Linked DNA regions of Homo sapiens. The protein of the gene in region 4 purifies or fractionates together with the protein of the main gene of each other region. This does not show direct contact. Each region holds a gene or a part of one and is shown on either strand. Other genes may lie near its edges. The genes, in order: ENOPH1, PPP1R12A, AHCY, UBA6, PCDHGA9, FAM114A2 and PFKP.

Region 1 (3,500 bases), about 15 Mb from region 4:
GAAAGTTAGGTCTGTGTGGATGTTTATGGTAATTATGTAAAAAAGGATTCCATTAAATGCACTTTTGGGAAATGCTAGTTAGAATGAGTTCAAATAGATTTCTTTATTGCAAGACTTCTCAGAACCTTCGGTATCATACATATATATACACACATACACACTTTGTGAGATTTCAAGAGAGTGACATTTCACAAATCTACTTGAACAAAAAACTTTTAGTAGAGTATCTCAGTGACTAATCTTTTAAACACCTTTTAAAGAGATGCTGAGTTACATTCTTGAATCTGAGCACGGAAAGGTTGAGCATGGGAGTTGAAAGATAATCTGCTTGGAGCTTTAAAGTCAGAGTAGGTGTGTGAACTTGTAGCCCTTCCTTCTGTGGAATGATGGAAGGAAACATTGAGTACTGTATACGTGCAGTACTCAATCCTTGACTCATTCTAAAAGACCATGAGGTGTATGTACTGTCTACACTTTACTTAGGATGAAACAAAGCCTCTGAAAAGTTGAACAAGATGCCTGGGATTTGAACTCAGATTGTCTTATTCATAAAAACTCTTATTTTTTCCATTACTGCACTCAGCCTTGGAAATGGGATGCTACTGTTTGTCCTGTCTCCTTTGCTTGGTGGTTGTGTATGTTAAATGACACAGTTAGTATGAGAGTTCTTTAATCAATGTGAAGTACTGTGCTATAAAAGTATATGGTAACAAGCCAGGTACGGTGGCTCAGGCATGTAATCCCAGCACTTTGGGACGCCGAAGCAGGTGGATCTCTTGAGGTCAGGAGTTCGAGGCCAGCCTGGCCAACATGGTGAAAGCCAGTCTCTACTAAAAATACAAAAAGTAGGCCAGGCATGGTGGCTCATAATCCCAGCACTTTGGGAGGCCGAGACAGGTGGATCACCTGAGGTCAGGAGTTTGAGACCAGCCTGGTCAACATGGTGAAACCCCGTCTCTACTAAAAATACAAAAATTAGCCGGGCATGGTGGTGGGCACCTGTAATCCCAGCTACTCAGGAAGCTGAGGCAGAAGAATCACTTGAACCCAGGAGGTGGAGGTTGCAGTGAGCCGAGATTGTACCACTGCCTTCCAGCCTGGGCAACAGAGGAAGACGCTGTCTCAAAAAAAGAAAAGAAAAGAAAAAAAGGAATAAATAATTCAAAAATTAGCTGGGCATGGTGGCGCACACCTGTAATCCCAGCTACTGGGGAGGCTGAGGTGGGAGAATCGCTTGTACCTGGGAGGCGGAGGTTGCAGTGAGCCGAGATCGTGCCAGTGCACTCCAACCTGAGTGACAGAGCGAGACTGTCTTTAAAAAAAAAAAAAAGTATATGGTAACAAATTTCAGTTTATAGCATGTCTTTGTGTCTTGCCTGAGGATCATCAAAATTTGTTGGGAGTAGAGCTGCAGCAGAGCCCAGTTTTCCTTAGATGTTCCCACCGCATCTAAATCCACCGCCACCATCCCTGCACTTTACCGCAGGACACATACCTCTGGTGTTTGTTCTTTTTTGTCTTTGTTTTTCTGAAGCAGGGTCAGGCTGTGTCACCCAGGCTGGAGTACAGTGGCACGATCACAGCTCACCGCAACCTCGACCTCTCAGGCTTAAGCAATCCTCCTACCTCAGTCTCCTGAGTAGCTGGGACCACGAGTGTGCACCACCATGCCTAGCTAGCTTATTTTTATTTTTTATAAAGATGGGGTTTCACAGTGTTGCCCAGGCTGTTCTCAAACTCCTGGACTCAAACAGTCCTCCCATCACGGCTTCCCAGAGTGCTGGGATTATAGGCATGTGCCACCATGTCCAGCTAATTTTTAAAATTTTTTGCAGAGATGGGGTCTCACTGGGTTGTCCAGGCTGGTAAAGCATTTTTAGAAATAGTGAATTCATTCTTGATTATTTAACAGTCCTCTTTATGTCCTCTTATAATGTATTTTAGAAGATAATAATTGGGGAGTGTTGCAGTTAACATCTTTCTTATGAAAACTGCTATATTAAATTATGGTCTTTTTAGGAAGAGAGCTTTAAAGTCTGATAGTTATCTCCCAACTTTGGTTAAACATCCATTTGATAAGTAGTATTACTTCTATTATTGCCAGCATTGAGAAGTGTAGGATGCGCACTCTGCCTGCACAATGAAACAGCTAGAAGACAGCCTACAAGGAATGGCACACTGGAAGCATTCTTCTACCTGTGCTATTTATTATTGACACCAGTAACTGTAATAGGGTCTCTTTCCCTATCTTCATTCAGTCTACGGATTTAGGCTTTTTCATCCGCAGGGATGGGCTACTAGGATATGCTTTGTTTATAAAGGTGGTGATGAAGGTTAAATAAGATGGAATTCAAAAGCCTTTGAAAATTACGAAGTCCTATAGAAACACTGATTATAATGCAGGAAGTGTCAGACTGGAGGAAATAGAAAGTGCTTATGAAGGAAGGATTGATAAGGAAAAGAGGGATCTTACATTTCCTGAAACCCACCATGCTCCCAGTTACGTCTACCATGGTTACTCCCAGTGACTTCTGCTCCTTATTGCCCTACCCAGAAATATGTTAAAAATAAGACGCAGGATATTGTTGATCTCTAAGAATTTGTGGAAGCACTGGAATGGCAGATAAGTAGTTGTTGATGGGTTGATAAACAACTGCCCCCCTCTCCCCAAACTTTTCTACTGCTTAGGGCAGTGTTTCCCAGCTACATTCATGGTAGTACGTGAGAGGATTTTTGTTGACTCAGCTTGAAACAAGGTGAGGAGTCTTTGGAGAATCACTGTCTTGCGTATATCAAGAGGTGGATGGAGGCTAGCCTTAGCCTTGGTGGCTCACACTTGTAATCCTAGCACTTTGGAAGGCCAAGGTGAGAGGATTGCTTGAACCTAGGAGTTCAAGACCAGCCTGCGCAATGTAGCATGACCTCGTCTCTACTAAAAATAAAAAAAGTTAGCCAGGTGTAGTGGCATGTGCCTGTGATCCCAGCTACTCAGGAGGCTGAGGTAGAAGGATCATTTGAGCCCAGGAGGTCAAGGCTGCAGTAAGCCATGATCGTGCCACTGCAGTCCAGCCTGGATGACAAAGCAAGACCCTGTCTCAAAAAAAAAAAAAAAAAATGGTGGATAGAAAGCACCTCTGGCCTCTGGGAGGAAGCTGTCCCACCTAGCTGGGAGGGACCTCACCTAGGATTCAGGAGACCTGGGCTGCCTACCACATGAGCCTTAGACAATCTGCTCACCCAGCCACCTGTTAGTTCCCTAAAGCTGGGACTGTCATGTTCATCCTGCTCTCACACAGAATATGTCATCGTCGTCATCATCATCATCATCATCCTATCGTTGTTGGAACCCAAAGAATCTGCATTAAGTAAATAATTCAGTATGGGCATGGTGGCTCACCCCTGTAATCCGAACACTTTGGGAGGCAAAGGTTGGAGGATCACTTGAGGCTAGGAGTTTCAGACCAGCCTGGGCAACATAGCAAGACCCTGTCTTAAAAAAA
Region 2 (3,500 bases), on a different chromosome or scaffold from region 4:
ATGTTTTAGGCAAATACATCTGATCTTTCCAGTATTTATAATTCTGTATAAATTACATTTGTCTTATGTAATTCATTAAGGTTAATTAACTTGATACCTAGATCTAAAGATAACTAGCAGAAAATCTACCAGATTTGATGTTCCTGGAAAAGAAATCATAACAGTTTTCATAGAAACCAGACTGTGAAATAGATTACCTTTTCTTTATTATCCAAAGAGGAGGAAAGTCTGGGACTTGAAGCTGAACGTGTAACACCTGCAGTATCTTTTTCTTTCTGACCCTCTTTAGATGCTGTGATTTCAGCAAGTGCACCATAGCTGCCCGTCTTTCTAAGTCCTAACCTCCAAGTTGCAGGAGACTCATCTTTTCTCTCTTCTTCTTTGGGAGAAATTTTTGTAGCTGTGGTTGGAAACTGTGTTTATTTTATTTTTTAGGAAAAGAAAAAAGAATTTGTAAAGCTGATCAGTCCTTAAATTGGAAACAATAAGTTTACAGATAATATATTTAAAATTATGGTTTACAGTTTCAGGATAAAACACTTTTACTACATAGGTTAATGTCTTAGTAAAAAATGTAAAGATCTAAAAATTTTAAAGAAATAGACTACCTTCCTAGGGGTTAGACTTAAGAAAACACACTACACACTTTATATCACACAGAAAAATTATGATGCAAATACAGAAAACAGAAATGAGCACACCATAAGGACTTAAAACCATGCATCTTTGGAACCAATTTATATTAAACTTGTTATGTTGTAACCTAATATAAATTCTTGCACATAGAAATGCCTCACCATAGATTTTTCACCCTTACTGGGCACAAGAACAATGCCAGTTTTGCGCAAGCCCTGCCTCCATGATGCAGGATCTACTGATTCCACCACAGGCATGATAGGAGCAATGAAATCATACTAAAGCCAATTAAAATAAGACAGGTAAAGAGACAAAGATTGAAAGCATGAAAACAGAAAAGGGAAGTTATGAACAAAAAATATTTTCTTCATTTGAAAATAATTTTATAATTAACCCCAATAATTGGGTAATGATCCAATCTTTAAAAGTCACTGGGAACAAGTTCTAATTTTAGCATGAGATAATCTGAAAAAAATCTAATAAACTTCTAAAGCAATTAAAAGGCATACAGAGTAGATAATATAGCATGTGACTGAACAAACTACTGCACATGAATTTTGTTTTTAATCCATGTATATACTCTGGTTAAAAAATTTTGTGTCCAATATAATCAACAAAAACTAGTAACTGATATTTTTCCAATTATAATACTTTTTTTTTTAACATCACAGCCTTAAATTTACTGATTTCCCCACCAAACATTAACTATTTCAACTATAATAAAAACTAATTTTATGTACAAATATTTATGCTATTTTAAGGGCTTTCCAACAACCCTAAAAATGCAACCTCTGTTATCTTTAGATCACTTCATCAACTTCACTTCTAGAAATTCTATACTCAACCACAGTTAACTATATAGATTGGTGAATACAGCAACTAACTAGTTGCCACAAGCATAGGGTATTAATAATTTTTTAAAAATCATTTCTTTCATATCTATTGCCAACATTTGCTATAATTAGCAGGTTAACAGGGCTTGTTAAAGCCCCCATGATGATGCTTGAGGGCCACTTCATGGACAAAACTGTTATAAAGATATACCTCTGGTACTTCCAGTAATGAATTGCTATCAATAGTGTCTAAGCATTCCTCAGTTCCTAAAATGTGCACCAAAGTGCTCCAGAGTGTCACAACAAAATCACGGGGGCTCTGTAGAATATTTTAAAGTTTTGAGAGAAGCACAGTGACATCTCATAGACACTGCACAAACTGCCATTTTGATCACATTTCCATCAAACTACTTAATGAGACAAACAGGCAATTCCTTTTGCCAGTGGCACTGTGAAAAAATCCTACCAAACACTAGGGGCTCCAATGACCAAGAAAGTTTGCGAACTCTAATATTCTGTGCAATATGATAGGTACTGAGACAGCTGCTTATTGATTGGTGAGTTTACAGGGCTACACTGTAAATGCTAGGCTTTGTGGAACACAGATAATATTAATACACAAATGATTGAGTGTGGCTGTAACCAATAAAACTTTAGGGACAATGACTTTTTTTTATTTTTTTTCTCCAACCAGTTTGCTATACAAAAACAGGTAATGGGCTAGGTTTGGCCCACCAGCCATAGTTTGCCAACACCCACATTAGGTCTCCCACCTCCTCAAAAAACAGAAACAAAAAAACAAACAAAAAACCTGGAAACAAACGTTTTTTCCCCCATTATAAAACAGCCAGAGTCAGTCAGTCAGATAACATTTATTGTTATAAATGAAGCTAACATTTATTGTTATAAATGAAGCTAACATTTAACAAATATTTACTAGTGTGTGACCCTCAGCTAAGTGCTTCACATGGGTTATCCTGTTTCAACCTTATAATTACCCAATGAAATACTACTATTACTGTTATTTTAGAGTTGAGAAAAACGAGGCAGTACTATCTATCAATTTTGAAATGGGCATTTGTTACACTGTAATGGCTGATATACCTCCACTCTGCCCAACATGAACTTGGATTTAAGTACTGCTTTATATGTCTAAAAGCACCTTTTAATTTTACTTGATATATAAATAAACCCTTCCTGAAATACTTAACTATACCTCCTCCTCCATTAAACTCTCTTCTTTGGCTTTTTTTACTGGACACTATCTTCACCTTCTTTTTCTTTTTACTCTGACCATTCCTTTTCTTGACTGACTCTGTGTGTGCGTGTGTGTGTGTGTGTGTGTGTGTGTGTGTAACGTTCCTTATACAGGCTGTGTGTGTTTGTGTGTGTGTGTGTGTACAACTTTCCTTGTGCTAGCCCTTCCAGAGCCTGCTCTTGGATCTCTCATATTCTCTTTCTACTTTCTTCTCCTGGGGGGTTAGGAGGAGGGTCTTTACTTCCTCAGGCTAAATATTAATTGTAGTCAGCTTATTCTCAAATGTGTTATTCTCCAGTCCAGTCTCCTAAATTTCCAGTCCTAATTTTACCTGTCTATTCTAGGTAAAATTCTACCACACTATTCTAGAGTGGACAATCTAGAACTATAACTGAAAACTTGAAACTCAGTATGTCTAAAATAAAACACCTTTACTTCCAAACCATCTCTTCTTCAGTTCCCTAATTCTGTTAATGGCACTAAGTATATCTCTTCAATCTCCTATGTTTCAAACTTCACAATTATGTTAGACCTTCTCTGTCATTTTCCTCCATCCATAAATTAGAGGTCAAGTCTCTAAATCTCCTCTCCTTTATAAGCCCAGAGTCACTTCTCTAGTTCATATTCTTATCATTGTGGGCAACTTCAATGACTTTCTAATAAACCTTTTCTCAATAAGCCTCTCATCTTCAAATCTGTACACTGCTGTCAGAATAATATTCTATAAAGAATAATCCTCTCATGGCATTGTTCAAACATCTTCCACGACTACT
Region 3 (3,500 bases), on a different chromosome or scaffold from region 4:
TGAGGCCAGGAGTTCGAGACTAGCCTGGCCAACATGGTTGAAACCCCGTCTCTACTAAAAATACAAAAAAATTAGCTGGGCCGGGTGCGGTAGCTCATGCCTGTAATCCCAGCACTTTGGGAGGTCGAGGCGGGCGGATCACATGAGGTCAGGGGTTCGAGACCAGCCTGACCAATATGATGAAACCCCATCTCTACTAAAAATAGAAAAATTAGCCGGGTGTGGTGGCGGGCACCTGTAATCCCAGCTATTTGGGAGGCTGAGGCAGGAGAGAATTGCTTGAAGCTGGGAGGCGGAGGTTGCAGTGAGCCGAGATCGCACCCTCGCACTCCTGCCTGGTTAATAAGAGTGAGACTCCATCTCAAAAAAAAAAAAAAAAAAAAGGCCAGGTACAGTGGCTCATGCCTGTAATCCCAGCACTTTGGGAGGCCTAGGTGGGCAGATCACGAGGTCAGGAGTTTGAGACCAGTCTGGCCAACATAGTGAAACCCCGTCTCTACTAAAAATACAAGAAGTTAGCCGGGTGTGGTGATGTGCACCTGCAATCCCAGCTACTTGGGAGGCTGAGGCAGGAGAATCACATGAACCCGGGAGATGGAGGTTGTAGTGAGCCGAGATTGTTCCACTGCACTCCAGCCTGGGTGACAGTGCGAGACTCTGTCTCAAAAACAAACAAACAAAAAAATCAGCTGGGCATGGTGGTGGGTGCCTGTAATCCCAGCTACTCGGGAGGCTGAGGCATGAGAATCGCTTAAACGTGGTAGGCAGAGGTTGCAGTGAGCCGAGATTGCGCCATTGCACTCCAGCCTGGGCAACAGAGCGAGACTCCATCTCAAAAACAAAACTAAAAACAAAAAACAAAAAGGGACACAGCTTGAATCACTGTGTGAGGAGCAGGCCCATGCACTGAGCTGGGAAAGAACAGGTTTGCATTGGGCATTGGGGCACTGAAACTGGAAGATGAGTTCTTATAGGGGGTGTGAAGTTTTACTTGAGTTGCAATTATTATGAGTTTATTTTTTTCTCTGATTATAAAAGTAGTATGTTTCTGGAAGACATTTTGGCTTTGGATATCAAGAGCTTTAAAGTTAAGCAACCTCTTTGACTGGGCAATCTCTCCTATAATTGGTCCTTAGGATAATTAAATATGTATGTAGAGATGTTCATCATTTTTTTTTTCTTTTTTTGAGATGGGCTCACTCTGTTACCCAAGCTAGAGGGCAGTGGCATGATCATGGCACACTGCAGCCTTGACCTCCTGGGCTGAAGGAGCTGATCCTCCTGCCTCAGCCTTCCAAGTACCTGGGACTACAGATGTGCACTACTACACCTGGCTAACTTTTTATTTTTTGTAGAGACGAGGCCTTGCTGTGTTCCCCAGGCTGGTCTCAAACTCCTGAGCTTAAGTTATCTCCCAAAGTGCTGGGATTATAGGCGTGAGCTGCCACACCAGGTCCACCACATTTTTTAAAGGGAGAAAAGCCCACCTATGTGAGGTTCTTTGAGTTGGTGCTGTGCCGTGTTTGAGATATGATAAGGAAGATACAGACACAGAGTTGGCCAAAGCCCTGACACCCACCCAGTCACAGCCACACCAGAAGCCCAAGTCCCAGAGAGGCAGACAGGCAGCTCTATGAACCCACATCCCCTACACTGCTCCTCTTGGGTGCTCTGCTCCTGCGTGGGAGTTCTCCTTGGCTAGGTCCTGCACTAGTCTAGGGTGTCAGTTCCCGGCTAGGCAGAGGGCACCTCCATCTCTGCCTAGAAGGCCTGGCACTCATCACAGTGTGGGGGTGGCCAGGGCGTGCTTCTGTGGCAGCCACACCCCTGACAGCCATCTGTCTAGACCTCCTTTTTGCAAAGGCATCACAGGTGAAACCTGCTACATTGGGGTGATGGGCACCTTTCTGCCAAGCTGCCCTCCAAAGCTGGACTCTATGCCCACCCTCAACATCCTTGACAGTCTTGCCAACCTTCTGCCCAACATTATCTCTTGTCCGTCCTCTCAAGGGCCTCTGTACTCAGGCCATAATTGACCACTCCCTGAATACCCACTGCAGCTCCTACTTCTGCTCATCTGTCCAGACAGCTGCATTTGTCTGGAACAGAACACATGCCCTTCTCCTTGTTCATCTTCTCAGCCCAGCTCAAGAGACCCCCTTCTGGCCAGGCACGGTGGCACACACCTGTAATTCCAGCACTTTGGGAGGCCGAGGCAGGCGGATCACTTGAGGTCAGGAGTTTGAGACCAGCCTGGCCAACATGGTCAAACCCTGTCTCTACTAAAAATACAAAAAATTAGCTGGGCATGGTGGCTCATGCGTATAGTCCCAGCTACTCTGGAGGCTGAGGCAGGAGAATCGCTTGAACCCAGGAGGTGGAGGTTGCAGTGAGCTGAGATCACACCACTGTACTCCAGCCTGGATGACAGAGTAAGACTCCGTCTCAGAAAAAAAAAAAAAAAAAAAATTAATAAAATAAAAAAGAGACCCCCTTCCTGGCCAGCTCCTCTGGCAGAGGCAATGCCCACACTCTTAGTACAGACCCCTAGTGCAGCATCCATCACTGGCTTTGGTCTCTGACCCCACTGTTGTACCAGGAGGGTAGAGTCCAGGTTGACGTGTCCCTGCAAGGGGCTTAGATGGGTATCAGTGAGTGCTTATTGATTGAAGCATCAATCAATGCCTGATGGGCATCAGAGACCTTTCCTTGGATCGGTACTAGGCCTCTGGAGCAGCTTGGAAACCTGGGCTTTTGGGGAAATGTTTGGGAGGCTGCCTGAGGGTGGAGGGATGGCAAGGGAAGAGCTGGGAGTGGGGAGAAAGCAAGTTTGTGTGTTCAGACAGCTGGGACAGACGGAGGACTGGGGCACTGAGGCTGGGGATTTCCATGTCACGTTCACTCACTAAACCGGGAGTTCTCAACCTTGGCAGTCACCTGGGAGCCACACTGTGGGCCACAGGAATAGGAGTCTCTGGGAATGAGGCCAAGGTATCTTTTTTTTTTTTTTTTTTTTTTTTTGAGACGGAGTTTCGCTCTTGTTGCCCAGGCTGGAGTGCAATGGCGCGATCTTGGCTCACCACAACCTCCGCTTCCCAGGTTCAAGCGATTCGCCTGGCTCAGCCTTCCTGAGTAGCTGGGATTACAGGCATGTGCTACCATGCCTGGCTAATTTTGTGTTTTTAGTAGAGACAGGGTTTCTCCATGTTGTTCAGGCTGGTCCCGAACTCCCGACCTCAGGTGATTCCCCCCGCCTTGGCCTCCCAAAGTGCTGGGATTACAGGCATGAGCCACCGCGTCTGGCCTGGGTATCCTCATTTTTTAAAGCTTCTGAGGTGATTCCAATGTGAGCGCCACGGCATTCAGCTTTTGCTAAGCTGCATTCAAAACTATTTCATGGTTATTGAGAACATGGGATCTGTCCTCAGACCGTCCAGACTCAAATTGCAGCCTCCTCTTAGTGTGTGGCTCTGGACAAGTGACCTAACCCTTGTAAACTT
Region 4 (3,500 bases):
GACTAGAACTGTCAACAAAGACATAAAATTTTATTCACTTGCTGAGACAAAGTGAGTCATTTTAGATTAGGTAAACCAATAAACCTAGGCAAAATGTACTCTATAATAGAATGTGGATTTCTTCAATGGTACTTTATCCACAAAAAACGACTTAGGTATTTACCATTTATTTAATACATGCTTTCTGCAAGAAACCTCAAGCATTGAGGACATATTTCTGCTCCCAGATGTTTTTCTCCATGGAAAAACTCATGCTTTTCTGAGCACTATACTGGGTATTCCTGAATTACTTTTCAAAGCGGGGCAGTGTTATAAAACTTTAAATGTCACCTTGATTCATGAGGAAAAAAATGATTTATAGATGATGGTGTGTCATGAGTACTACATGGTGCTTTAAATGAGTACACAAATAATAAATAAGATTCATGTTTGGCATTACATAGCTATTAACAAATAGGTTAAATGTCAAAAGAATTAACTTCTCTTATTGCCTAAGAGAGAGAAGATATAAAAATGTCTGGTTGGATTTTATTTATTTTTGGATTTTTAATAGGCTTAAAGCTCAAAACTAGATTAAATCAATAAAAATTGGTCATTGCTTCCCCTTAAGTACCTGTTGTCATATTTTATAAATTAGCGGGATCCCCCAGAAGAGGAAATACCATTTTGTACTCTAAAATCCTTTCCAGCTGCTATTGAACATACCATACAGTGGGCAAGAGATAAGGTAAAAGTTCCTTTTTAAATTTATTTTCTTTGAAGTGAGAAAGAAGATATTTCTGACTTTAAACAGACTTCTATTTGTAATTTTTTTTTTCTTTTCTCTGTTACAGTTTGAAAGTTCCTTTTCCCACAAACCTTCATTGTTTAACAAATTTTGGCAAACCTATTCATCTGCAGAAGAAGTCTTACAGGTAAAAATCAGTAAATTTTAATACAAACTTAACACTTTGTGTCAGTGTAATCTTATTTTCAAGTCATCTACAAGTGATTTATTTTACCTCCATAAAGAGTGATTGTATATAAAAAATGAAATGATACATAAGGAATCTTGAAATTAGGTCACAAATTATCATTTTGGTTGTTTGAACTACATGGAATTGTCGATATTTGAGCATGTTCGACTCACAAAACAGCAATTCGTATGGTGCGAGCTAATAAAGATATGATAATTATGATAGAAGGGCTACAAATAATAAAAGGGCTTTTATTAAGCCCTTTGGAAAGAAAAAATTGAGGTAAGTTCTAGTTAAAATTTCATGAGGGAACAATAATCTCCAAGACTTATTACTCTTATAGTGAAGGCAACTTTAAAGATGTTTTCTCACTTTCTTTTAATCTTTTGCTAACAAGGCCCACTTTTTAGTATCAAATATTCATAGCACTTATAGTGAGTACATATATTATAGTACTAATAACTTACAGCTAGGAAAATATGAGGATAACTTGTAAGATAAGAAATCAGAGTTAAAATTTTGTATGCTATCTCTTACCATTCCCCTTCTCAAACAGAAAAGAAAAGAAAGGTTAAAGAAGAAGGAAGGGAAAAGGAGCTTGAGGTGAAAAAAGAAAAGCATAAAACACATGAGTTGACACTTCAAACTTAGGCTAACTTTTGGTGAGGGATGTGTATATGTTTGTAATTGGAAGTATGTTGATTTTTTTTTTCTCTCCCATTCTAGAAGATACAGAGTGGACACAGTTTAGAAGGCTGTTTTCAAGTTATAAAGTTACTTAGCAGAAGACCTAGAAATTGGTCCCAGTGTGTAGAATTAGCAAGATTAAAGTTTGAAAAATATTTTAACCATAAGGTAAGTATGCATTGTGAGACATTAAGAAAAGGTCTGATCTTGGCTTATTTAGTTATTAACAAATTAATTTCATTGACCTGAAATGTGTATTCTTTCTTTTGGCAAGCTTTTCAGAAATTAGTAGTAAGTTAAATGAGAACACATGCTAATCTAAAAGAAGTTTGTTCAGAATAGAAGAAGCAAGAAACTGAGAAAATAGGGACATTTAGTCAGAAATTTTGCTGAGATTTTGCCATTTCCACCCATATCTGATAATCACATTTTATGTCTGTTTCCCCATCTGTAAAATAGAAATAATAAATTTGTACCTAATACATAAGGTAGTGGTAAAGATAAAAGGAGGTAACACAAAGCATTTAGAACAGAGCCTGGCACATAAAAAATTACTAAATATTAGCTGTTATTCTTACCTCCAGTTAAATATAGTTGCTGGAATGTGTGTTGCCTTCTCTTTAGTCTTTCCCTCTCTTTAGGATCTTAAGTTCATCTTCCTTAGAAACAACTTTAAAAAAAAACAAAAAAACAGGGTTTCCCTATGTTTTCCAGTCTGGCCTGGAACTCCTGGGCTCAAGTGATCCCTGCCTCAGCCCTTAAGTAGCTGAGGCTGCATGTGCACGCCACCACACCCCACTTAAAAAATATTTCGTTTATACTTCTTCTTTTTACTTTCAACAGAGCTCTACTTCTTGGAAAAGTGGTCTGTACTACTCAATGTTACCACTTCTTTACCCAGTAAATTTGACTTCTTTGCTCATTACTCTTCAGATTGTTCTTAACATGGTTATCAATGACCCGTTTCAAAAATCTAAGGAACTCTTTAGTTCTTATCTTCTGTGCATTTTTTTTAAACTTTTTTTATAATGAAAAATATTCAGCCATAGAAATGTAGAGGAAATAGTATAATGAACCCTAATGTAATTGTCAATTACCTATCACCCAGGGTTAGCAGTTATCAATTCATAGATAAATCTTGTTTCATCACCATTCCCGTTCATTCTTACCTTCCCCCAGGTGATTTTGAAGCAAATCTCAAACATGTATCAATTTCAAAAATACAAAGTACTGTGTGTTTTTTCTGGTTTTGTTATTTAAGTACTAGCTCTTTAAAAAGAACAGAATGACATGTAAAATATGCCATTTATATAAAAAGGAGTGAAGTAATCTACATTTGTTTGCTGTAGATACCACCTCCCAATAAACCTACAAATAGTGATAGAAAATGATATTTGAATTTTTCATTTATGAGGGACATTGACAGGAGAATGGACAGATGGAATACAAGGGTGGTAGGGAGACTTCACTGTGTCTCTTTTAATGTGTTTTGATTTTTGAATCATGTGCATATATTTACTACACACATTTTTTAATTTTATTTTTTAATTTTTCCTCAGATAATATTAAGTAGTGGGTGTCTTTAATTCATTTTTTTTCTTTAGGCTCTTCAGCTTCTTCACTGTTTCCCTCTGGACATACGATTAAAAGATGGCAGTAAGTATAAATGTTGAGAATAAATTTTAATGACATTTATTACTGGCTACATACATTGAAAATGATATTTGTATCTTTTTGCCAGGTTTATTTTGGCAGTCACCAAAGAGGCCACCCTCTCCAATAAAATTTGATTTAAATGAGCCTTTGTAAGTATTTATATTTAGTTTTATGTATCCTTCATTATATATTTCTTTACTG
Region 5 (3,500 bases), on a different chromosome or scaffold from region 4:
GCTGAGTTCATCTACTTAGGGACGGGGAATCCCAGATTGGGCAAAACCAAAAGCAGGGACAGACCTTGGAAAAATTGTAAAGCAGTTCTTGGTTGTGCTCACCCACCATGACAAAATATGCACACACACAACGCAACACACACACAGACATTTTCATGCCTTCAAGGCCTACCCTACAGCCTTTCCCATGGTGCCAAACCCTTCTTCTTACCTTACAGTCACTTAACTGTCTCTGCTGGTCTCTTCCCACTCATTTAGGCAACAAATATTTATTGAAAAACTTCTCTGAGCCAGATGGTGCCAAACAGTTACCTAAAGGGCAGACTGTGTGTGTGCCAGGGCTGTTTCCCGCCAACACTCCCCTGCAAATTGAAATAATTTCATCCTTGGAAATTCAAAAAAATCATGAAAATTGTCACTGTGGGAAAATTCCAAGTAGAGCTGAACCTTCTAAGAAGCAGAGAGTTCTTCTTATGGTTTAGTATTTTTTTAAATTATGAATCATTTCATGTTTTTTCAACACTCGGAGTTTCTAAAAGTCTCACTTAGGTCCAAGTGCTAGGCTTTGTGCTAGGTGCTTCAGTAGGAAGCAGGTGGAGTCGCTGCCTCACAGAAGCCAGTGTGGTGGAGGAACAGACAGGCACTACAACAGCTGCAGTGTGACTAGTGCCATGTGGGGCAGCCGCTGGGATGGGAGTACAGTGGAGGCACCTGCCCAGTCTGAGTGGATCTCCTCTGATATATTTTATTCGTGTCATCATGGCAAATGTTGGGGGACTGGCATTCTAGGGAACACCATCTGCCCAGGATTCACAGCAAGAGGGAACTTGAGGGATAGGAAAGTGCACCTTGGAAAAGGTTTGATGATAGAGTGTTTGAGGGCGGGGGGTGGGGGTTCTTGTAAAATAGGAGGGGCAGGTTCTTCTATGGCCGTGGATTTTACTCTGAGGGCTTAGGAAGCCATTGAATTTTAGAAATTTCTTCTCCCTGCTCCAGGGTCTCTTGGGGCCTCCTACATCTCCCCCTAGGTACCTCCTAGGTCCCCACTTTTTCTCTAGCTCTGGAACATTCTCTTCCATTTCCCACCTTCACAGTCCTCTGGAGAAGGTCTGATCTCCCTCACTATGACAGGAAGCCAGGCTCTCTCATGGTGGGTGGGGGAATGCACTATGTTCAATGCATTGGACCAGCCTGGCCAACATGGTGAAACCCCGTCTGTACTAAAAATACAAAAATTAGCCTGGCACAGTGGCAGGTGCCTGTCATCCCAGCTACTTGGGAGACTGAGGCAGGAGAATCGCTTGAACCCAGGAGGTGGATGTTGCAATGAGCCAAGATCGCGCCACTGCACTCCAGCCTGGATGACAGAGTAAGACCCTGTCTAAAACAAAAAGAAAAAAGCATCGGAGGCAGCAAAGAGCTGGTTTGAGGGACTGACTTGTGGGATTCTGGCTTCTGAAGGATTGTAGAAGTGCCTCCTACCTTGCTGAGAGAAACAGGTCTTGGGCATGGGGTAGGGTTAGGGTACTAGGTTTGGGAGCCCTGGGAGAGGACAGGAGGGGCATGAGCTGTGCCGGCCTGGGAGTCTGTGCTCACCATCCTACTCTCTCCCCAGCTCCCAAAATGGCGATGACACCGGCACCTGGCCCAACAACCAGTTTGACACAGAGATGCTGCAAGCCATGATCTTGGCGTCCGCCAGTGGTAAGTGGTGTCAGTGTGTGTATGGAAGAGTGGGAGACCTGGGGTTCTGGGGTGCATCTCACAGCCACCATGCCCACGGACTGGATGTCAAACCTGTGTAGTTTCTCCAGATCTTTCGGCAGGTCTGAAAGGACCCACAATTCCAAACATAAAGCCTGGAATTGTGGCTAAGGAACAGCAGAGGGGTTGGGGGTCCTGGGATGCCTGGAGGAGAGCGAACAAGGAAAAGACTCATGGAGGGAATAGTGGTTACAAGTCTAGCTCTGGAATGGGACAGTGTAGCTCAGGTCCTAGCTCTGCTACTATCCTTGGGACTTGGATCGACTTGCTCAATCTCTCTAAACCTCAGTTTCCTCAGCCTAGAAAGTGGGGACAGGGACCCCAAAGGGTTGTTGTAGAGATTAAATGAGATGATACCACAAAGCATAGAGTTCTGGGCCTGGCGCTTGGAAGCCCTCAAGCAATGAAAGTGGGTGTAGAAATCCCCAGCCGAGAGAACACCTCCTCTTTATGCGAGGCTCCTCTTTTGCTGCCCCTAACTCCAGAGTAGGATTCTGGTTTTCCCATAAGGTTGACTAAGGGCTTCCTTTGTAATAGAGATTCGGCTAGTGGTGGTTGTCCCTGAAGAGTCACTAGGGCCCAGAGCAGGAGAAGAAGAATATCATTTGTCCTTAAGAGCACAGCCTAAGCTGGGCGTGGTGGCTCACGCCTGTAATCCCAGCACTTTGGGAAGCTGAGGCAGGAGGATCATGAGGTCAGGAGTTCGAAACCGGCCTGGCCAACATAGTGAAACCCTGTCTCTACTAAAAATACAAAAATTAGCTGGGCATGGTGGTGCGTGCCTGTAGTCCCAGCTACTTGGGAGGCTGAGGCAGGAGAATCGCTTGAACCTGGGAGGTGGCTGTGGTGAGCAGAAAATCGCACCACTGCACTCCAGCCTGGGCAACAGTCTCGCTCTGTCTCAAAAAAAAAAAAAAAAAAAAAGAGCACAGGCTTTAGAGGCAGGCCAATCTGGATTCAAATCCTGGCACCTGGCACCACCACTTAGCAATGAGTCCTTAGGTAAGTTATTAAACCCCCTCGGTTTCACTTACTATTAATGGGCACAGTATTAACGGATCTCATTGTGGTGTTACCAGGGCCAAATGCAAGTCCCTCAGCACAGGATTGGCAGAGAGTAAGGGCACAATATATTATTATCTTTGCTGACCCAAACCCGTTTTTTACTGGGTAGAAAGCAGAATTAGAATAATGCCTATTAATAAAGACTAGCTTCTGGAGCAGCAAATCCTGGGCTTATAAGGAGGCTGGCAGAGGATCAAGGCATTGCCCTATATCATGAACTGATAGCCCTGCCCTCCAGCATGTCTGGAGGACTGGTGGGTAGAGAACCAGGTGAAATCACAAGAAGCACTGTCATCACACCTGGGCACATACTAAACAAACTTTAGGGGCCTCCTGTCAATGAATCCTCTCAATAGCTCTGCAAGGCAGGTCTGATTTCTCACACTCGACAGATGAGAGAACCGAGAAGGCACTTGCCCCAGGGTCCTCAGTTTTGAGCTGCCAAGCTGAGGTTCTAACCTGGCTCAACTCCTAAGTTTATGCTCTTTCTACTATAGGGACCATGGCTGCCTTTGGATCCAGCCTCGGCTTCTCTATTACCTGAGCAGGATGAGAGGCTGTCCTCTTCCTCGAGCTCTGCTTTATTCTTCCAGATCAGGGTTGCCAGATAAAATACAGGATGCCCAGTTACAGTTGAATGTCAGATAAACAGCAAGTACTATTTCAGCATA
Region 6 (3,500 bases), on a different chromosome or scaffold from region 4:
CCACTGGCATAGGATGGATGGAGAGGGAATAGGATGAGACGAGTAAAGAGTGAAGGCTAGACCTCCAAATAATATTGGCGTTTAAGAGACTGGCCAGTTAGGATCAATATATAAAAGATACTGAGGAGAAATGGTCATAAAGGTCAGAGGAGAACAGAAGAAAGTTGGGGTTACAAAAACCAAAGAAAACTAGATTCATTATCAGGAGAATGGATAAATTGTGATATATACAATCATGCATTGCTTAATGATGAGGATATGTTATGAGAACTGCATCATTAGGCAGTTTTGTCATTGGGCGAATATCAGAGAGTGTACTTACACAAACCTAGCTGATGTAGCCTGTTACACACCTAGGCTATATCGTTTAACCTATTGCTCCTGTACAAAACTGTACAGCATGTTACAGTACTGAATACTGTAGGCAGTTGCAACACAATGGTATAGAAAAGGTACAGTAAAAATATGGTATTACAGTCTTACAGGACCACCATTATATATGTGGTCTGCTGTTGACCCAAACATCATTATGTGGTGCATGACTGTATATAAAATGAAATACTACACAGCAGTTAATATGAATGAACTAATACATGCAGCAACATGGATAAATCTAACAGACATTATGTTGTGCTTAAGCCAGACACAAATTAGAATGAACTTATATTTCTATTTTTATGCATTTTAAGATTAGGAAAAATTATTTATAGTGAGCAGAAGAGGGTTTGTCTTTGGGCAGGAGGAGGGGGACATGGTTTGAATAGTATTGGCTAGGAAGGGACATGAAGGGACCTTCTAGGGATGAGGAAATATTCTATATCTTGATCACGGTTTCGTAGGCATATACACATAAAAACATTTCTTAAGCCATACTCTGAAGATTTGTGCACTTTATGTAAATTATACCTTGGTTTTTTAAAAAGCTGATTAGAGGCCGGGCGCAGTGGCTCATGCCTGTAATCCCAGCACTTTGGGAGGCTGAGGCAGGGGGATCACCTGAGGTCAGGAGTTCGAGACCAGCTTGGTCAACCTGGCGAAACCCCGTCTCTACTAAAAATACAAAAATTAGCTGGGCGTGGTGGTGGGCGCCTGTAATCCCAGCTACTCGGGAGGCTAAGGCAGGAGAATCGCTTGGACCCAGGAGGCAGAGGTTGCAGTGAGCCAAGATTGTGCCATTGCACTCCAGCCTGGGCAACAAGAGCGAAATTCCATCTCAAAAAAAAAAAAAAAATACTACCAATTAGAGAATTTTGAAAAGGAATGATGGACCACAGTGATAAGTATTGCTGAGACTAGTAGGATAAGGACTGAAAAGCTAGATGGTACGTTCAGGTAAGAACAGGAGCCCTTACTTCTAGGATGCTATTGTGTTCCTGGTAGGTGCACAGTAATTTTGGTAAACTGAATTGAATTGTTGATGGCCAATATTTTTCTTATTTAGGCAAGAAATACCGCCCACGAATGGATCAGGAAGTCTCTGACCAAGCCATTAGCAGAGAATGAAGAAGGAGAAAAACAGTCGGAAGCAGAAAATACTGAGCAAGTCAACAAAAATTCAATAGAGGTAGCCAAAGCAACTAAGCCTTTTTTGTTTGTTTTAGTAGATTTGAAATGTGTCACAATCAGGGACCCAGGCTCCTATTTTTACACTGCTGTCCGTAATTTCAACCTTGTGATCTAGGATTGTAGCATCTTAGATCCAGACTATAAGATTAAAGGAGGAGTGAAGAAAAAAAGAGAGAAAGGATGCGCGTGTGTTTTGTCATGAGGAAGGTTCCCAGAAACTGCTGCCTGACACTTGTTATCTAAATCATTTGGCCAAAACTTAGTTACTTCGTCACACCTGACTTCAGGGGAGCCCAGCTGTAAAATTATATCACTACTGTGGAAGAAGAAGACACTCTTTATTGGAAGGCAACTATTAGTCTCTGCTACAAATCCTGTAGTATGAGAGAAGTAAGGTGGTATCTTTCCACCAAATGTTTTGTTTTGCTATGCTTTGTTTTGTTTTTCCATCCAGGATATCCATGCGTTTGCAATCCGGAGCCTGGCTGAACTGACTGCCTGCTCAATTGAACTATTCCACAAAACAGCTGCATTGGTTCTGCATGGCAGGAAGCAGGAAGTGACAGCCATAGAAAGGAGCCAAACTCTTTCCCAGTAAGTGTAATGAGAATTCCTCTAAATGATGCAAATTGCAGGAGTTTTCTTGGCCTGTTTCCAAAGTTTTATAAACGTCTCTCTCAAGAAACCATTCACGTCACACCCATCCACATATTAGATGGTTTGTTCATTTTGGTTGTTTTTTTCTTTTCATTGAACCATGATAAATCAATATTATAAATATGCCCTTTTTATTAACCAACTCATGCTCTGAAGACTATTTCTTTACAGATAAGTTTTAATAGGAATGGAATTTGGTATAAGTGAAAACAGAGAAGAGTTCTAAGAACCTCAGTTCTTAATAATAGTTATTATTGAGTGCTAATTTTATACCATTCCAAGTGCCATGCTAAGGGATTTGCATGTATAATTTCTAATTTTTATACCTCCAAAAGTAAGTAATTAGTCCAGTTTTAATCATGAGGAAATGCAAACTGGAGGAGTTAAGTAATCTGTCTGTGCTGTATGGCCTGGGATTTAGCCCCAGGTCTGACTGAGTGTCCTGAACCCATTCTTTTTTTCTCATTTTATTGCTGATTTGTACAAAAATTTTTCAAAAATAGTATAGATAATCATAGGTAGGGAAGAAAAAGCCCAGTAGTTTCTAAGCAAATGTCCTGATTAAAATAATGAGAATTTTCATTGGAAACAAATGTATAAGAGTGCCCATTATTAGAACTGGGAGGGGCTGTCAGTCTTCTGCAGACTTCCTCTTTACTTGCACCATCACCATCCCACTACAGCACCCCATAATAGGGGGCTAATTTGTCTTCTTGAACTTCCTTAAGGATGAGAGACTCACAACCCTAAAAGGAGCCTGTTCTGCGGAAAAGAGGCTATTTCTGCTACTTGGAATGTTCTTTGAAATGGGGTTCACTCCCTCTCTGAATTCAAGTCTACTCAAATGCCACCTTTTTAGAAAAGCCTTCCTTCACCACAAAGTCTAAAATAGCAACTTCCACCATTCTCTGTCCTTTTACTCTGCTTTATTGTCTTAGCTTATATCACCAAGTAGGACTTACATGTATATGAATATATATGTGTGTATATGTATACATATGTGTGTATGTGTATATATGTATATGTATATAGTCTCCCCCTTAATTTAGCAAGTAAGTTGAAATCCATGAAAACTGGGACTTTTCTTGTTCACTGATATGTTCCCATTGCTTGAAAGACTTTAAATAAAATCTGGCACACACAAGACTTTAGGTAACTATTATTAAAGATGGACTAATCACTTACTTTTGGAGTTGTTGTAAAAATTAGAAATGATACATGTAAATCCCTTAGCATGGTGCCTGGCATAAAATTAGCACCCAGTAACTAATAACTAA
Region 7 (3,500 bases), on a different chromosome or scaffold from region 4:
CACAATCCCAGGGCAGAAAGGCTGTGTTTCTAGTGAGTTTCTGGAAACTGACTCAGGGCAGCAGGAATCCCAAGTACAAACCCTCAGTTCTTAACACTCCTGCTCTCCATGTGCCCTGACCTCCTCTCTGTTCCCGTCTTGCCAGTTCTAAAGGAGTGGAAATCGCTTTGCTCTAAAGAGTTGGGCTGGAAGCGGGAGGGGCTGTGAGCACCTGACTGAGGTCATTGGACGTCATGGAAAGATAGGAGGTGACAGGGACAGGGCAGGACGGGAGGCTGCCCCTGACCCACATGGACCTGGTTTCCAGGCCAGCCGCATGGGAGTGGAGGCAGTCATCGCCTTGCTAGAGGCCACCCCGGACACCCCAGCTTGCGTCGTGTCACTGAACGGGAACCACGCCGTGCGCCTGCCGCTGATGGAGTGCGTGCAGATGGTGAGTGGGCAGCCCATGGCCAAGGGCAGGGCGGAGACGGCTGGGACAGAAGCTGCTTGTCAGGCCAGCCTGGGCACCTTGGGTGTCTCGTCGGTGCACGATGCATTACACGGCCTTTCTGAGAAGGAGGTGAGCTGCCCGTGGGGAGGGAGAAGGCTTATGTTCTCTCCCACACCTGCAGAGCCTGCGCCGTCTTCGCTCTTTGGTTTTCTAAGTTACCATCCATCTGTGTGGCACATAGTCGTAACCTCCCCTGAGTGGGGGTCTAGAGCATCGGGATCCTCAACAGTCGAGGATCCAGGTGGCCCCAGTGCACCAGGTGCTGCAGAAGGACAGAGTGCAGGGAGGCAGCCGAGAGAGAGAGATCCGTGGACAGACTGCAGGGAGGCGGGCGTGAGAGAGACCCATGGGGCAGAGGGGGCAGGGAGGCAGGGAGGCGGGCGTGAGAGAGATCTACAGGGTGGTATTTTGTAGGGGAAGGTGGGACCTTCCCAAACTTCTCCAGTTTCAGCCATTTCCTGTCCTCCTATCCCCAAGGACATTCAGGTCTGTGATGGGACACAGGGAAAGCTCTGGTCACCCGAAGATACACCCACCCTTCTTGGGCCAGGGAACTGTCTGCCTGCAAATGAACAAAGGGAAAAGCAGTTCCAGCTTTTCAGGCATTGGTTCAGTAGTGGAGGTGGCTGTGGAGTTAGCTGCATTTGAAGTTATTTAATTAATTAATTTATTTATTTAGAGACGGAGTCTCACTGTTGCCCAGGCTAGAGTGCAGTGGCGTGATCTTGGCTCACTGCAAGCTCCGCCTCCTGGGTTCACGCCATTCTCCTGCCTCAGCCTTCCGAGTAGCTGGGACTACAGGTGCCCACCACCACGCCTGGCTAATTTTTTTTTTTTTTTTTTTTTTTTGTATTTTTAGTAGAGGTGGGGTTTCACCGTGTTAGCCAGGATGGTCTGGATCTCCTGACCTTGTGATCCATCCACCTCGGCCTCCCAAAGTGCTGGGATTACAGGCATGAGCCACCACGCCCAGCTGTTGTTTTATTTTTCAGAGTTCATTCATGATTCGTGACTCCTGTTTTGTTGCCTCTTAACACACACAAAGAAGTCGTGAAGCAATCAAGTCAGGGACTTGTTGAAAGTCACCTTGTAAACATAATTTCCAAAAGCCCAAGGGAGAAAATAGTATTTGTGTGTATGTGTGTGAGTGTGTGCGCAGGCTTGTGTCTCTGTGTGTATGTATGTATATGTGTGTGCATGTGTATCTCTGTATATGCATATACATGCAGGTTTATGCATATATTTATGCATGTGTGTGCATGTTTGTGAGGTAGTTTGGGTCTGCATGTATGTGTATGTTTATATGCATGAGTATGCATGTTTGTGGTAGTATGTCTGCATGTATGTGTGTGCATGTTTGTGTGCATGCATGTTTGTACGTGTGTGCATGTTTTTGTGAGGTAGTGTGTGTGCATGTTAGTGTGTGTGCATGTGTGTATATGCATGTGTACATTTGAGTGTGAGGTAGTATGTTTCTGCATGTTAGTGTGTGCATGTATGTTTATATGCATGTGTATATATGTGTGTGAGGTAATGCATCTGCATGTGTGTGCATGTATGCTTATATGCATGTGTGAGCATGTTTGAGATAGTGTGTGCATGTCTGTGTGTGCATGTGTTTATATGGATGTGTGTGTATGTTTGTGAGAGGTAGTATGTGCCTGCATGTTTGTGTGTGTGTGCAGGTATGTTTCTATGCAGATGTGTGCATGTTGGCATGAGTGTGAGGTAGCGTGTGTCTGCATGTTTGTGTGTGCAGGTATGCTTATGTGCATATGTGTGTATGTTGGAGTGTGAGGTAGTGTGTGTCTGCACGTTAGTGTGTGCCTGTGTGCATGTGAGAGGCAGTAGGCTTAAAAGGCTCAGAGCACTGAACGACATGCGGTACGTGTATTTTGAGCCTGTGTCTCATGTCTCTGCTTGTCTAGAGACGACCGTGGTAGGTGTCACTTGCCCTGACCTTGAAACCACCCTTGTGTGGCTTTGTTTTTAAAGCTGAGGGACCACTACTGTGCACCTGCTGTTTGTCAGGCGTCTTCCTGAGGGTCTGACATGCTTGAATAACCTTAGAGATAGCTGGAAGTAGGAGTATTTTTCTCATCTTACAGATGAGGAAATTGAAGTTCAGAGCGAGAAAGAACTTGACCAAGATCCTGACGTTGCCCAGGGCTGCCTGGCGTGCATCAGTCCCAGCCCCGTGTCCCAGGGCCTCCATCCGGGCCCCTCTGCTCCCCCGCCCGCTGTGACCTCGCTCCCATCCCACATCCCCCAGTGAGCTGGTGTGTTCTGTTTTGTTTTTCCCCACCATAATCAAATTGAGAATTCCTTAGAACCATGCCTGAGAGATTTCATTTCCTCTGGCTTTGTTCTCTTGGAGTTAAATCTTCACAGTGTTGTGTCCACAAACAGCAGGTGACACCTTCTCTTTTTCCTCAGAAGCCTCCTGAGCTAAGCAGTCCCAGGGCTCTGACCTCACAGCCGGGCCGTGTGGGGCTGGCTGCCAACCAGCATTAGGACACACTTGGCGGCCGGTCGTCTAGACCATTAACCCTGGGGCTGCTGGCTGCCCGGGTCAGACTGGAGGGGGCTGGTGGGAAGGACCGAGCCAGTCTCTACCTACCCCATCCATGATGCACCAGGTCCTGACACATTCTTTCTTCTTTTCATCATTGTTTTAAAAGACTCAGGATGTGCAGAAGGCGATGGACGAGAGGAGATTTCAAGATGCGGTTCGACTCCGAGGGAGGTGAGGTGCTTTGGAGAAAGCTCTGCCCTGTCAGGAACACACACCCCTCAGGCCCAGCCACTGCAAACGTGCTTAGGGGTTGTGCTTATTCCATGTCACTGTGAAAAATCAGAAAGTCAGGCAGTACTCACAGCACCGCTCTTGCAGTAGCAGGCCCTGGTGACTGGTTAGAGAGAAATCATTTTCTAAATTTGCCATTGGTCCTTTTTGGTAAGGTGATGGTTGTTTAGGAGCTAATGAGATTAAGGCACAAGGTGACTT

Evidence for each region.
Region 1: the proteins of UBA6 (region 4) and ENOPH1 fractionate together in Homo sapiens (co-fractionation; one large-scale study listed by BioGRID). This does not show direct contact.
Region 2: the proteins of UBA6 (region 4) and PPP1R12A fractionate together in Homo sapiens (co-fractionation; one large-scale study listed by BioGRID). This does not show direct contact.
Region 3: the proteins of UBA6 (region 4) and AHCY fractionate together in Homo sapiens (co-fractionation; one large-scale study listed by BioGRID). This does not show direct contact.
Region 5: the proteins of UBA6 (region 4) and PCDHGA9 purify together in Homo sapiens (co-immunoprecipitation; one large-scale study listed by IntAct). This does not show direct contact.
Region 6: the proteins of UBA6 (region 4) and FAM114A2 fractionate together in Homo sapiens (co-fractionation; one large-scale study listed by BioGRID). This does not show direct contact.
Region 7: the proteins of UBA6 (region 4) and PFKP fractionate together in Homo sapiens (co-fractionation; one large-scale study listed by BioGRID). This does not show direct contact.

Annotation. Positions count from the first base shown.
Region 1 is NC_000004.12:82,433,590-82,437,089, forward strand, and holds part of ENOPH1 (enolase-phosphatase E1), read left to right. Parts: intron 1-3,500. UniProt on the Homo sapiens protein: Bifunctional enzyme that catalyzes the enolization of 2,3-diketo-5-methylthiopentyl-1-phosphate (DK-MTP-1-P) into the intermediate 2-hydroxy-3-keto-5-methylthiopentenyl-1-phosphate (HK-MTPenyl-1-P), which is then dephosphorylated to form the acireductone 1,2-dihydroxy-3-keto-5-methylthiopentene (DHK-MTPene).
Region 2 is NC_000012.12:79,809,598-79,813,097, forward strand, and holds part of PPP1R12A (protein phosphatase 1 regulatory subunit 12A), read right to left. Parts: intron 414-3,500; coding exon 198-413; intron 1-197. UniProt on the Homo sapiens protein: Key regulator of protein phosphatase 1C (PPP1C). Mediates binding to myosin. As part of the PPP1C complex, involved in dephosphorylation of PLK1. Capable of inhibiting HIF1AN-dependent suppression of HIF1A activity.
Region 3 is NC_000020.11:34,286,356-34,289,855, reverse strand, and holds part of AHCY (adenosylhomocysteinase), read left to right. Parts: intron 1-3,500. UniProt on the Homo sapiens protein: Catalyzes the hydrolysis of S-adenosyl-L-homocysteine to form adenosine and homocysteine. Binds copper ions.
Region 4 is NC_000004.12:67,631,656-67,635,155, reverse strand, and holds part of UBA6 (ubiquitin-like modifier-activating enzyme 6), read left to right. Parts: intron 1-637; coding exon 638-727; intron 728-833; coding exon 834-914; intron 915-1,682; coding exon 1,683-1,811; intron 1,812-3,247; coding exon 3,248-3,299; intron 3,300-3,384; coding exon 3,385-3,448; intron 3,449-3,500. UniProt on the Homo sapiens protein: Activates ubiquitin by first adenylating its C-terminal glycine residue with ATP, and thereafter linking this residue to the side chain of a cysteine residue in E1, yielding a ubiquitin-E1 thioester and free AMP.
Region 5 is NC_000005.10:141,503,778-141,507,277, forward strand, and holds part of PCDHGA9 (protocadherin gamma-A9 isoform 1 precursor), read left to right. Parts: intron 1-1,615; coding exon 1,616-1,704; intron 1,705-3,500. Other genes in the region: PCDHGA1 (protocadherin gamma-A1 isoform 1 precursor), read left to right, coding at 1,616-1,704; PCDHGA2 (protocadherin gamma-A2 isoform 1 precursor), read left to right, coding at 1,616-1,704; PCDHGA3 (protocadherin gamma-A3 isoform 1 precursor), read left to right, coding at 1,616-1,704; PCDHGB1 (protocadherin gamma-B1 isoform 1 precursor), read left to right, coding at 1,616-1,704; PCDHGA4 (protocadherin gamma-A4 isoform 1 precursor), read left to right, coding at 1,616-1,704; PCDHGB2 (protocadherin gamma-B2 isoform 1 precursor), read left to right, coding at 1,616-1,704; PCDHGA5 (protocadherin gamma-A5 isoform 1 precursor), read left to right, coding at 1,616-1,704; PCDHGB3 (protocadherin gamma-B3 isoform 1 precursor), read left to right, coding at 1,616-1,704; PCDHGA6 (protocadherin gamma-A6 isoform 1 precursor), read left to right, coding at 1,616-1,704; PCDHGA7 (protocadherin gamma-A7 isoform 1 precursor), read left to right, coding at 1,616-1,704; and 11 more. UniProt on the Homo sapiens protein: Potential calcium-dependent cell-adhesion protein. May be involved in the establishment and maintenance of specific neuronal connections in the brain.
Region 6 is NC_000005.10:154,000,911-154,004,410, reverse strand, and holds part of FAM114A2 (protein FAM114A2), read left to right. Parts: intron 1-1,441; coding exon 1,442-1,564; intron 1,565-2,020; coding exon 2,021-2,160; intron 2,161-3,500.
Region 7 is NC_000010.11:3,109,048-3,112,547, forward strand, and holds part of PFKP (ATP-dependent 6-phosphofructokinase, platelet type), read left to right. Parts: intron 1-307; coding exon 308-433; intron 434-3,174; coding exon 3,175-3,239; intron 3,240-3,500. UniProt on the Homo sapiens protein: Catalyzes the phosphorylation of D-fructose 6-phosphate to fructose 1,6-bisphosphate by ATP, the first committing step of glycolysis.